Regions from separate parts of the Homo sapiens genome. Here region 2 is linked to region 1. Evidence: fine-mapped QTL for protein levels in blood plasma. A gene starts in region 1. The other region holds a variant in brackets. All regions are shown on one strand. Distances are between the middles of the regions.

Region 1 (5,386 bases):
AGGCAGAATGTTGAAAGTGCCAACTCACTTCTTTTTTTGGTTTGGTTTGGTTTGGTTTTGAGACGGAGTCTTACTCTCTTGGCCAGGCTGGATCTTGGTTCAGTGCTACCTCCTCCTCCTGGGTTCAAGCGATTCTCCCACCTCAGTCTCCAGAGTAGCTGGGATTACAGGCACGCGCCACAACACCCGGCTAATTTTGTATTTTTAGTAGAGACGGAGTTTCAGCATGTTGGCCAGGCAGGTCTTGTACTCCTGACCTTAAGTGATCCACCTGCCTGGGCCTCCCAAAGTGCTGGGATTACAGGTGTGAGCCACAGTGCCTGGCCCAACTCACTTCTTTTAGCTGTTTCTGATAAGGTGCAGAAAGAAAGAGAGAAAATAATTCTTTATTTTTTTAAAAGCAGAATCAAGAGCAAACATTTCCATGCCAGGATTTGTTGGGTTTGAAAATAAAACTGTCATTGTTAGTCTTTCCAAAGAATATCAAAAAAGAAATAGTCTCAAGGCAATGATCGAGTCCAGAGTGCTGCCAGTAAAACATGTTCACAAGGTCAAGATTTCAGGGATGTGGCTGTAAGACTGTATGTGTGTGTGTGTGTGTGTGTGTGTGTGTGTGTGTGTGTGTGTGTGTGTGAGAGAGAGAATATTATCTAAAATATATAAAAATCTCCCATAAGAAATAAATAAGCAGCTCAATAGAAAGTATCAAGTATCTGGACAGGAAAATCACAGAAAAAAATATAAATGGCAAATAAACATATACAAGATGCTTAGACTCACTGATACTGAGGGAACAATTAGATGCTCTTTTTTCTCTTAAGTAAAAAAGTTGAAAATATTCAGCATTCAAGAGATTGTGGGAAAGCATCCCCTCTGATAGACTGATGATGGGAGAGTAAAATGGCACAACTATTTTGGAGTATATATGGAATACCTGGAATTTGGAAAAATCAAAACTTAAAATATGCATAATTCTCCCTTTTACTCAGCAGTTTCATCACTAGAAATCTATCCTACAGAAATACTCCCATATGTACACACAATGTATGTATGAAGATTTTCATTGCATCATGTTTCTCCCAACTAAGGTGAAAATTTCATGAGTGAGAACTTCGTCATTCACTCTTGTGTCATCAGTAGCTAGATCACTGTCTGGAACATAGTGGGTGCTCAACAGATACTTGTTGGATGAATGAATGGGATTGAAAAATTGGAAACAAGCTAATTTCCTGTCAATAGGAAATGGTTACATCTAGTTTATGAAATACTATGGGCTGTCAAAAGAAATGAGATAGATCTTTATGTACTCACATTGAAAGATCTTCAAGACCAGTGTTACTTTTTTTTTTTTTAATGAGGTTGCTTTCTAACATTACCATTTCATTTTGGATTTCACTTCATACTTTACAATACAGCCTGGAGGAACGCCTCAACTTCTAGTTTCTCTCTCCATTAAGTATCTAATTATGTGTAAATAGAACAACTAACGGGACGCTGGGAAGCCCAGGAGGCAAACATTTTGCAACCGGAACTGTTGAGTGTGCTCGGAGAGGCGAGGGAGGTCTATTTGCTCGTTTCCTCGGATTGCTTAAATGCGGGATTTTGCTATCCCAAAGCACAGAGTGTAAAGTAGCAGCTCCCCCTGCCTGCCTTCCCGGCTTCTTCTGTTTTACAAGCAACGATAATTTCCCGGTGAAAGCGAGGCCTGGGAATCAAATCCAAAAAGTGGTTGTTCCCTTTAGGAGAGGTTAGTAGCTGGAAAGGAGCATGAGAAAACTGGAAGGTCCCATAGACTAATGTGTTTTTTTTCCAAGGTTTGTACAGATTCACCGAGTTGCTGCGCCTTATCATCTAAGTAATGTCTCGGTTTTAGAAGTTGACATTGTTTTGTTAATTACTTCTCTGGTCACATGCATTTCAGGCCGCGCAAAAAGAATCGGAGTGCTGCTTTATATAAATGAATAAAACTAAGTTCCGTGGTTTGGCCCTTCTACACCCTCCTCCCCTACCACAGGCTTTGCAAACCACTTAAGTGTCCTCTGTAACCGTCCGGGGGCACTTTCGGGTCAGAGACAGCGGGCGGAAACCGCAGAAAAAGTTGAAAATGTCAGCGACACCCTGCATCTGCGAGTTCTATTCCGTCCCTGAAGCGGTGAAGCGGGCTGAGCGCGCCGAGGGTGGGCTGCAGCCCGGCGAGGGGCTGGGCTCAGGGCACCTTGCCCAGAAGGCGGGCATCGGTGCCAAGTGTTCACCGGCTACGCAGCAGAGCCACCGAGCAGCGCCCCCCCCCGCCTCCCGCGGGCACGCTCGGTGCCAAGGCCAGCTGCTCCTGAAAGCGGCCCGCGGAGCCCCGAGCCCGGGACTCCCTACTCAGCACCACCCGGCGGGCTCTCGGCTGACCCGCCACGGAAGATGCCCGGTTCCGGGCGATCCGGGCGGCTTCCCTGCGCGCGGGGCCCTGCTGTCCCCGCAGTGCCCACCGGTGCGCCTTAGTCGCCAACCCACCTCATCTCAGGATGAATTTCAGTGTACTTGACGCATCGCGCCAGGACGGTCTCGGGAAAGCGCTTGGTGGTGCCCGGACCGCTCCACTGCTGGCGCCACCTCGGGACGACCACCGCGAGCACCACGACGAGGATCAGGACCAGGATACTGACGCCAAGACAGAGTTGGGCTCTCCTAGAGAGCCGGCAGCAGGGTTTGTCCCCGGACACCGGGCTGAACTCGCAGTTGGCCATAGGGCTCCAGGCGGGGTTGGCTGGGCGAAGATGAGGCCGGCAGGAGGCTAGGCAGCAAGAGAGAGGCTGGCTGGGTTCTGAAACTGCACCTCCCCTTCTGTTTCACTTGCCTTTTCTCTGTTTCCCTTCCCACCCCCAACCCCTTGCCTCAGAGTTCCGTGGCTGGTTACACCAATAAGAGTTTAAAAGACCAACAACTATAGGCTCCTGTGCAGTGACCCACCCACTCCACCTCCAGGGAGAAACAGCCACCTTAATCCTCTGCAGGTGTCCTAAGGGGGCAGACAGTACATCCTTATACTCCCTCCGCTAACTCCCTTCATCAACCGGGCACTTTACACCTGAGCCACATTTGCTTCCTGGAAAGCATGAGGGTGGGCTGCCTGCTTCTATACGTGTGTGCACACAATGCCCTCTGCCTGGAAAAGGATGTCCTACCTCTCTTTCTTAACTCTGACAAATGCCTGGTCAACCACCTTTAAAGACTCAACTTAAGTCTGACTCCTTCTCTCAAGAGGCATCAGTGGCTAAGCTCTGGGTTCAAATTTAGTTCTTGCTGGATGACATGGGGCAAGTTACTTAACCTCTCTGTACTTCAGATGTAAAGCCGGGATAGTAGCAGTACCTACTTCATGGGATTGTTACGAGGATTAAGTGAGTTAATATCTACAACGTGTTTAGCACAATACCTGGCACATGGTAATCACCCAGTAAATGTAAGTTGTTACTACCAGCTCTAGGAGCTGCTCAGAGATGCAATTTTATAGTCCATGGAATGTGTTTGAAGCAGGGTCTGGCACACAGTAATAATACTGCACTCTATGCGGGAGTTTAATAAATAATAAAGTGGCTTTTCTTGCCTCTTCTTTATTAAGAGAACATCTGTGACATTCAAGCAGAGACCTAAGTAATGTGAGCGATCAAGTCACCCAACTCCCTTGGGGCAAACATTTCCCAAGCAGAGGAAATGGCAGGTGCAAAGACTCTGAGGCAGAAAAGCTCTTGGCCTGTTCCAGAGCAGCAAGGAGGCCAATTGTAGTTAGGCTAGAGGGTTGAGGGAAACAGAACAGAAGTTCGGAAAGTAGCAGGAGACCAGATCACCCATAGCTCTGTAAGACAGGATGACTTTTTGGACTGTGTGTTTTATTTATTTTTTATCTTTTTTATTTTGTTTTAAGTTCTGGGATACATGTACAGGACGTGCAGAGTTGTTACATAGGTAAATGTGTGCCATGGTGGTTTGCTGCACCTATCAATCCATTGCTTAGGTATTAAGCCCCTCATGTTTTAGCTATTCTTTCTGATGCTCTCCCTCCCTCCACTCTCCCCAACAGGCCCCAGTGTGTGTTGTTCCCCTCCCTGTGTTCATTGTTCAGCTCCCACTTATAAGTGAGAACATGCAGTGCTTGGTTTTCTGTTCCTGTGTTAGTTTGCTGAGGATAATGGCTTCCAGCTCCATCCATGTCCCTGCAAAGGACATGATCTCGTTCCTTTTTGTGGCTGCACAGTATTCCCTGGTGTATATGTACCACATTGTCTTTATCCAGTCTGTCATTGATGGGCATTTGGGTTGATTCCATGTCATTGCTATTGTGAATAGTGCTACAATGAACATATGCATGCATGTATCTTTATAACAGAATGATTTATATTCCTTTGGGTATATACCCAGTAATGAGATTGCTGGGTCAAATGGTATTTCTGGTTCTAGATCTTTGAGGAATCCCCATACTGTCTTCCACAATGGTTGAACTAATTTACACTCCCATCAACAGTGTAAGTGTTCCTATTTCTCCACAACCTCACCAGCATCTGTTGTTTATTGACTTTTTAATGATCACCATTCTGACTGGCATGAGATGATATTTCATTGTGGTTTTGGTTTGCATTTTTCTAATGATCAATGATGTTGAGCTTTTTTTCATATGTTTGTTGGCTATATAAATGTCTTCTTTTGAGAAATATCTGTTCATGTCCTTTGCCCACTTTTTAATGGGGTTGTTTATTTCTTATAAATTAGTTTAAGTTCCTTGTAGATTCTGGATATTAGACCTTTGTCAGATGGATAGATTTTGAAAATGTTCTCCCATGCTGTAGGTTGTCTGTTCACCCTGATTATAGTTTCTTTCGGTGTGCAGAAGTTCCTGAGTTTAATTGGATCCCATTTGTCATTTTCGCTTTTGTTGGAATTGCTTTTGACATTTTCATTATGAAATCTTTGCCCATGCCTATGTCCTGAATGGTATTGCCTAGATTTTCTTCTAGGGTTTTTATAGTTTTGGGTTTTACATTTTAAATCTTTAATCCATCTTGAGTTAATTTTTGAAAAAGGTGTAAGGAAGGGATCCAGTTTCAATTTTCTGCGTATAGCTAGCCAGTTTTCCCAGCACCATTTATTAAATAGGGAATCCTTTCCCCATTGCTTGTTTTTGTCAGGTCTGTCAAAGATCAGATGGTTGTAGATGTGAGTCTTATTTCTGAGATCTCTATTCTGTTTCATTGGTCTATGTGCCTGTTTTTGGATTTTATTTTTAACCCATTCGTGTGCATTTTATTTTTACCCATACAAGTCACCAAATGACTTGATCTGGCATATTATTTTAAAGGATCAATCTGGCTTTGGTATTAAGAATAAATTGTAGGAGGAT
Region 2 (5,386 bases), 24 kb after region 1:
GAATAACCAGCTTGAAATATGCCAGGAAGTGTATTTTGGGGTGGCACATCTTGTCTCCCACAGTATGTTTTGAGGTGGTGCATCCTGAGCCCCAACAAATGAGCATCTTGGAAAGAGATATGGCTGGCCATTGCACAGCCAGTGCACAGAAAAATGTGAATAGCACTCCAAACCTCACCCTCCGAGGCCGCTAGGGGGAAAAACAGCTCTCCACAGCGCAACATACCTGCTAGATGTTACAATAACCCAAGTCTATGATGATGACCTGAGTCATTCATAGAAGATATACCCATTAAGGACATCATCTTCATAAAACTAGTTATATGCAACACGTCCTATGTCAAAATGTTTCTCAACATGTGTTAACCTATCAAACACACTCTCAACTAATCTCCACCCAGGTCAGGAAAATGTGGTTGAGTGTCACTTCCTGAGTCTGGCTGGTACTGCAAATATAAATTCAACGTTTTTTCAAACACATCTCACCCCCAGACCTGCCATTGGCATGCACATCTTTAACCACAAACCACGATTGAAAATGAGAAAGAAAACTCTCCTCTAGCTGGGCGCTTCATAGGACTAGCCAGGTACGACCATCTCTGAGGGTCTTTGACAGCTCAGTTTTACTGCATAATCTGTTTTCAAGACCCTTTAAAAGACCAGATTGTCTAGTACTTTTCTTTTATGAGAAGAGCTTCCCCCAACCCACCCTGCAGTCTTTTAGCAAAAACACCAGAAAGTCGGTTTTTCCCCCTTGTTTTGTTGTTGTTTTTGTTGTTCATGGTGGTGTGTTTTGTTTGTTTCAGTTTTATTTTTTCAAATTCCATGGTTATTTTCAAAATGAAGATCTAGCTTACAGTGTAATTTTTAAGTTTATGTTTATGTTGCAGAGACTGGGAGAACTGTTTAGTCACCACCTTGAGAACCTTAACATCATCTATCAGTTTACATGGTACTTGCCCTGTGGAGGAACTCAGAGCTCTCAGATTGTTTTACCTTTATTCCCTGGAAGCTTTGGACTATTGGAATATAAGCTGGAATAAGAAACTCATTGATTTGAAATTGGAGTGAAGTGATTATCTGTCTAATAACCCAATGGTTAAGTTTTTTTTTTCAAATAGGGTTTTCAGAGTACACAAATGAGCACACACTCACACACTCACAGATGCATAAACACTCTAAGACCTTCATCACTGGTGGTAACCACCACTCTACATTGACTGAAGGTGACATCTGGACTCAGCATTTCTTTTTTCTTTGGGGCTTTTCACCCATAAATAATATGCAGTTGTTCAATTCATTGCTAAACTACAGAGATCCAGTGAAGAATGAATACATTAATATTGCAAATGCATTTACTCTTTGACTCACTGACCCCATTTCTAGGAATTCAACCTACAAATATCTCTGCCCACATGAAAGATAATAAATATACCAGATTAGTCATTGCAGCATTGTTTATAAGAGAAACTGGCGCCAGGCACGGTGGCTCATGCCTGTAATCCCAGAACTTTGGGAGGCCAAGGCGGGCGGATCAAGAGGTCAGGAGTTCAAGACCAGCCAGACAAACATGGTGAAACCCCATCTCTACTAAAAATACAAAAATTAGCCAGGCGTGGTGGTGCACACCTGTAATCCCAGCTACTGAAGAGGCCGAGGCAGGAGAATCACTTGAACCTGGGAGGCGGAGGTTGCAGTGAGCTGAGATTGCACTACTGCACTCCAGCCTGGGCGACAGAGTGAGACTCCATCTCAAAAAAATAAAAAAATAAAAAAAAGAGAAACTGATTGCAAACAACCTAAATGATGTTCCTAACGGGGTGGGTTAAATAAATTACAAAACATCTCTCCCATGGAATATTATGCAGCTGTAAAAAATAAAGTGAGGGATCTCTGTATGTATTGATACAGAATAATCTCCAGGATGTACTATTAAGGAGTACAAAGTATTTTGTGTTTAATGCTTCCTTTTGTGTAAGAAAAGGTAGGGAGTAATAACATGTATTTGTATGTGCTTGTGCAAAGAAACCCTAGACAGATCTACATGAACTTTAAACAAGTGGTCATCCGAATTAGAGGTGTGGGACCAGAACAGGGGACAGGAGTGGGAATGAGATTTTTTCATAGTGTTTTATTTTTAAGCCATGTGTATATACTACCTTTTCAGAAATAACATAAAAATCACCAAATGTAAACTAAAACAAATCTACGTACTTAAATTACAAAAATGGACCGCTGGGAAAGAGCCCGTTTTTTCCATCTTTTCAGGCATGCTTATCAAATACTTCATCAGTTGGAAATTCAACAAAATAAAGTATGTGTGCAGCTACATCTGACGTTGATTCTTTATCTCATTCAAAACCACACAGTGCTGACAGCAACATCCTTCCTCTCAGCATTCATGCTTCTGCTACCACCCAGGGGCACTGAGTTCACAGCCAGCTCACAGAAGGTAAGAAACTGCACACAACCCTTAGAGAGGAGACAATCTTAGACATGTGCATGCTTCAGAGAACATCTGGAAATTCTGCAATGTTCCTGAACTCAACATACCCCTGTTTCCTTGGGTTCTTTTAGGCCAGTTTTCACAATGGGGTCACACTAATCCTCACAACCTCTACTTTAGCG[A/G]CTCATGAAGCCTCTATTGTTCTGCAGAACACCATCCCCTTTCAAAGAGCCTCCCTCTCAATATTTCCGGGGGTCTTCGTGGGGATTATCACATCTGCACTTGAAAAAGCTGCCCACAGTCCCACAGGCCTCCATCGTGGTTTTCCTCTCTTTTCAATCTCCACTGATGATACACACGAAGAAGCTGTGGCCTCACACCCCCCCACTTGGCCTTCCAGATCTTCCAGCCTCTCCCTTTGGCTCTCTGCCCTGGATCCAGCCCCAGGAGGCTCTCCCAAAGGAAGGAAGGTGACTGAGGTCCGGTTATCCATTCCCTCAGCTGGCTTCCTCCCTGCAGGGTTGCCTCAGGCCACTGGGTTCCTTGACAGAGGCCACTGCTCTTCTCCAGATGACCTCTCCATGGGACTCTCTCCTTCCGGATTCCCATGACCTCCCTGTTGCCTCACTCTGTGAGGCCTTGGTGCATCTCTGTACACATCAATGGTTTGCAGATAGTCCCTATTAAACCTCCTCCGATTTTCCTGATTTGAGTGTGCTATCTGTGTGTCTGGATGGGCCCTGACCGATTTGGACTCTCCCTGCCTGCAAGGCAGTTTATGTATGTCCCATCATTGCCTTTGGTGGGCACCATCTCTGCGAACCTCCAGCTGTGCCATGGCTGGGCCACACTTTGAGAGCTGGGTCCTATCCCAATACTGTTTGTGGCTCTGTGTCTCGTAACATTCTTAAAGACCCTACTCTTTCTCCTTAGGGCTCACCTAATGGAGAGGGATGCTACTAATAATTATGCAAGGACAAAGGACACCCACTGGCGCGATCGTGAGCCATTCAGGATGTTTGGTTTCTACATGTATACACAGGAGCACACACATACATAAAAAATCTCTGCTACAGATACGATGGATACCTTCTAATTCTTCTCCCTTTTCCAGACCGCCTTTATCTGAAAAAATCCCTCCCACAAATGGACTTCTGAAAGTCCCATGCTATCAGCTCTGACATATCTGAGCCCCAGAGATAGAGACAGCTTAGACAGAGGCTGGAACATATCTAATCTGAAATTTTAGAAGAAGAATGCAGCGTGCTGTATTTTGGATATGACATTTATATCAGAGAGATGAAGATGGAGGGTGATATATTGCCAGATGAAATGCTAAGAGGACAGCCACTTTATCTTCTTAGTGATTTATATTTAAATATTTTTTAGTGATTTATATTTATATTTCTTAGTGATTTATATTTAAATATTTCTTAGTGATTTATATTTATATTTCTTAGTGATTTATATTTAAATATTTCTTAGTGATTTATATGTAAATCACTTTATCTTCTTAGTGATTTATATCTTCTTAGTGATTTATATGTACTATTTACATTATCAACCAGCATCAATGTGCAGTGGCCAGAAGCCTCTCTCCAGTGGGCCTTTACTGGCTTTCCATCTCATTCCAAAAAAAGCCAGTGAAATAGCCTGCAAGGCCTGACCTGATCTGGCCTATTTTCTTCCCTCACCTTGATCCTGCCATCCTGGCCTCCTTGCCGTTCCTCAAATAGTTCAGACACATGGCTACCACGGGGCCTTTGCTTCTGCTCCTTCTGCTTGAAATGTTCATTCTATAGATATAAGAATGGCTTGGGAGGCTGAGGCAGGTGGATCACTTGAGGTCAGGAGTTTGAGACCAGCCTGACCAACATGGAGAAACCGTGTCTCTACTAAAAATACAAAATTAGCTCTGCATGGTGGCACATACCTGTAATCCCAGCTACTCAGGAGGCTGAGGCAGGAGAATCACTGGAACCCGGGAGGCGGGGGTTGCAGTGAGCCGAGATTGCGCCATTGCACTCCAGCCTGGGCAATAAGAGCGAAACTCTGTCTCAAAAAAAAAAAAAGAATAGCTTGATTCCTTCACTCCTTCAAATCTTTGTTTAAACATCATCTTCTCAATGAGGCCTATCCAGACTTCTCATTTAAAACCATAGCCCCAGCCTAGCTTTCCATGTTGTATTATTTCCTGGAGCATGCATCACCTTCGAAAATACAATTTATTCCTTATACAAGCTATTTATTATCTCCACCCACTAGAATGTGCACTACAAGAACATATGCACAATTGCCCATTTACTGAATAGATCCTAGAACTTAGAAGAACACCTGGAACTCATAAACACACAATGATAGCTGTTTAATGAATTAATGATCAAAGCACAAATCTGATCATACACCTCTCTTGTCAAAGTTTTTTAATCTTTTATGGTTTTCCTTTGCTTTCAGTGCAAAACTAAATCTCCTTAGCATGTTTATAAAACGGCAATAATTCATTTTCTAGTCTTATACGAGCCACGTTCCCACTGCCATGAGTTGTTGCAAGAAATAAATTGTTATAATACACAAAGGAGAAGTGCTGGATTCTGTGTGCTGTGATGAGAAAAGAGACTGAGACATAAGCATATTAAGATGAAGAAAATAGTGACTACAGTGTATATTTATATACACTATACACAGTACATCTATACATAGATGTATATACATAGATATATACATAGATGTGTGCATACTATATGTGGATGTATACATTATATCTATGTATATCTATAAGATATACATATACTATATAAATATAGATCTATAGATATACATATAGTGTATACACATATATCTATATACATAGATATAGTGTATATCTATATACACTGTATACACAATAGTGACTATAATGTATATATCTAGATCTCCACTATGTAGGAAGAGTATTGAATC

Evidence for each region. A credible set is the group of variants that fine-mapping cannot tell apart. PIP is the posterior inclusion probability: the model's chance that the variant is causal. The UK Biobank Pharma Proteomics Project read protein levels with antibody pairs (Olink). The fine-mapping took linkage between variants from a reference panel, not from the people measured, so its PIPs are less certain.
Region 2: its variant is the best candidate, but not a certain one, in a credible set for the plasma level of the CD38 protein (UK Biobank, PIP 0.57).

The regions. Positions count from the first base shown.
Region 1 is chr4:15,775,767-15,781,152 of GRCh38, reverse strand. It overlaps CD38 (CD38 molecule), which reads right to left and starts at 2,825. Exons shown (of 8, transcript NM_001775.4): 1 at 2,506-2,825. The coding sequence starts at 2,738. RefSeq lists silencers at 2,067-2,116, 2,307-2,356 and enhancers at 2,487-2,986, 2,398-3,040.
Region 2 is chr4:15,751,525-15,756,910 of GRCh38, reverse strand. It overlaps LOC107986186 (a long non-coding RNA gene), which reads left to right and starts at 485. Exons shown (of 2, transcript XR_001741393.2): 1 at 485-587; 2 at 2,370-2,840. It also overlaps a transcript of BST1 not described here. The variant A/G (reference allele first, on the strand shown) is at 2,629.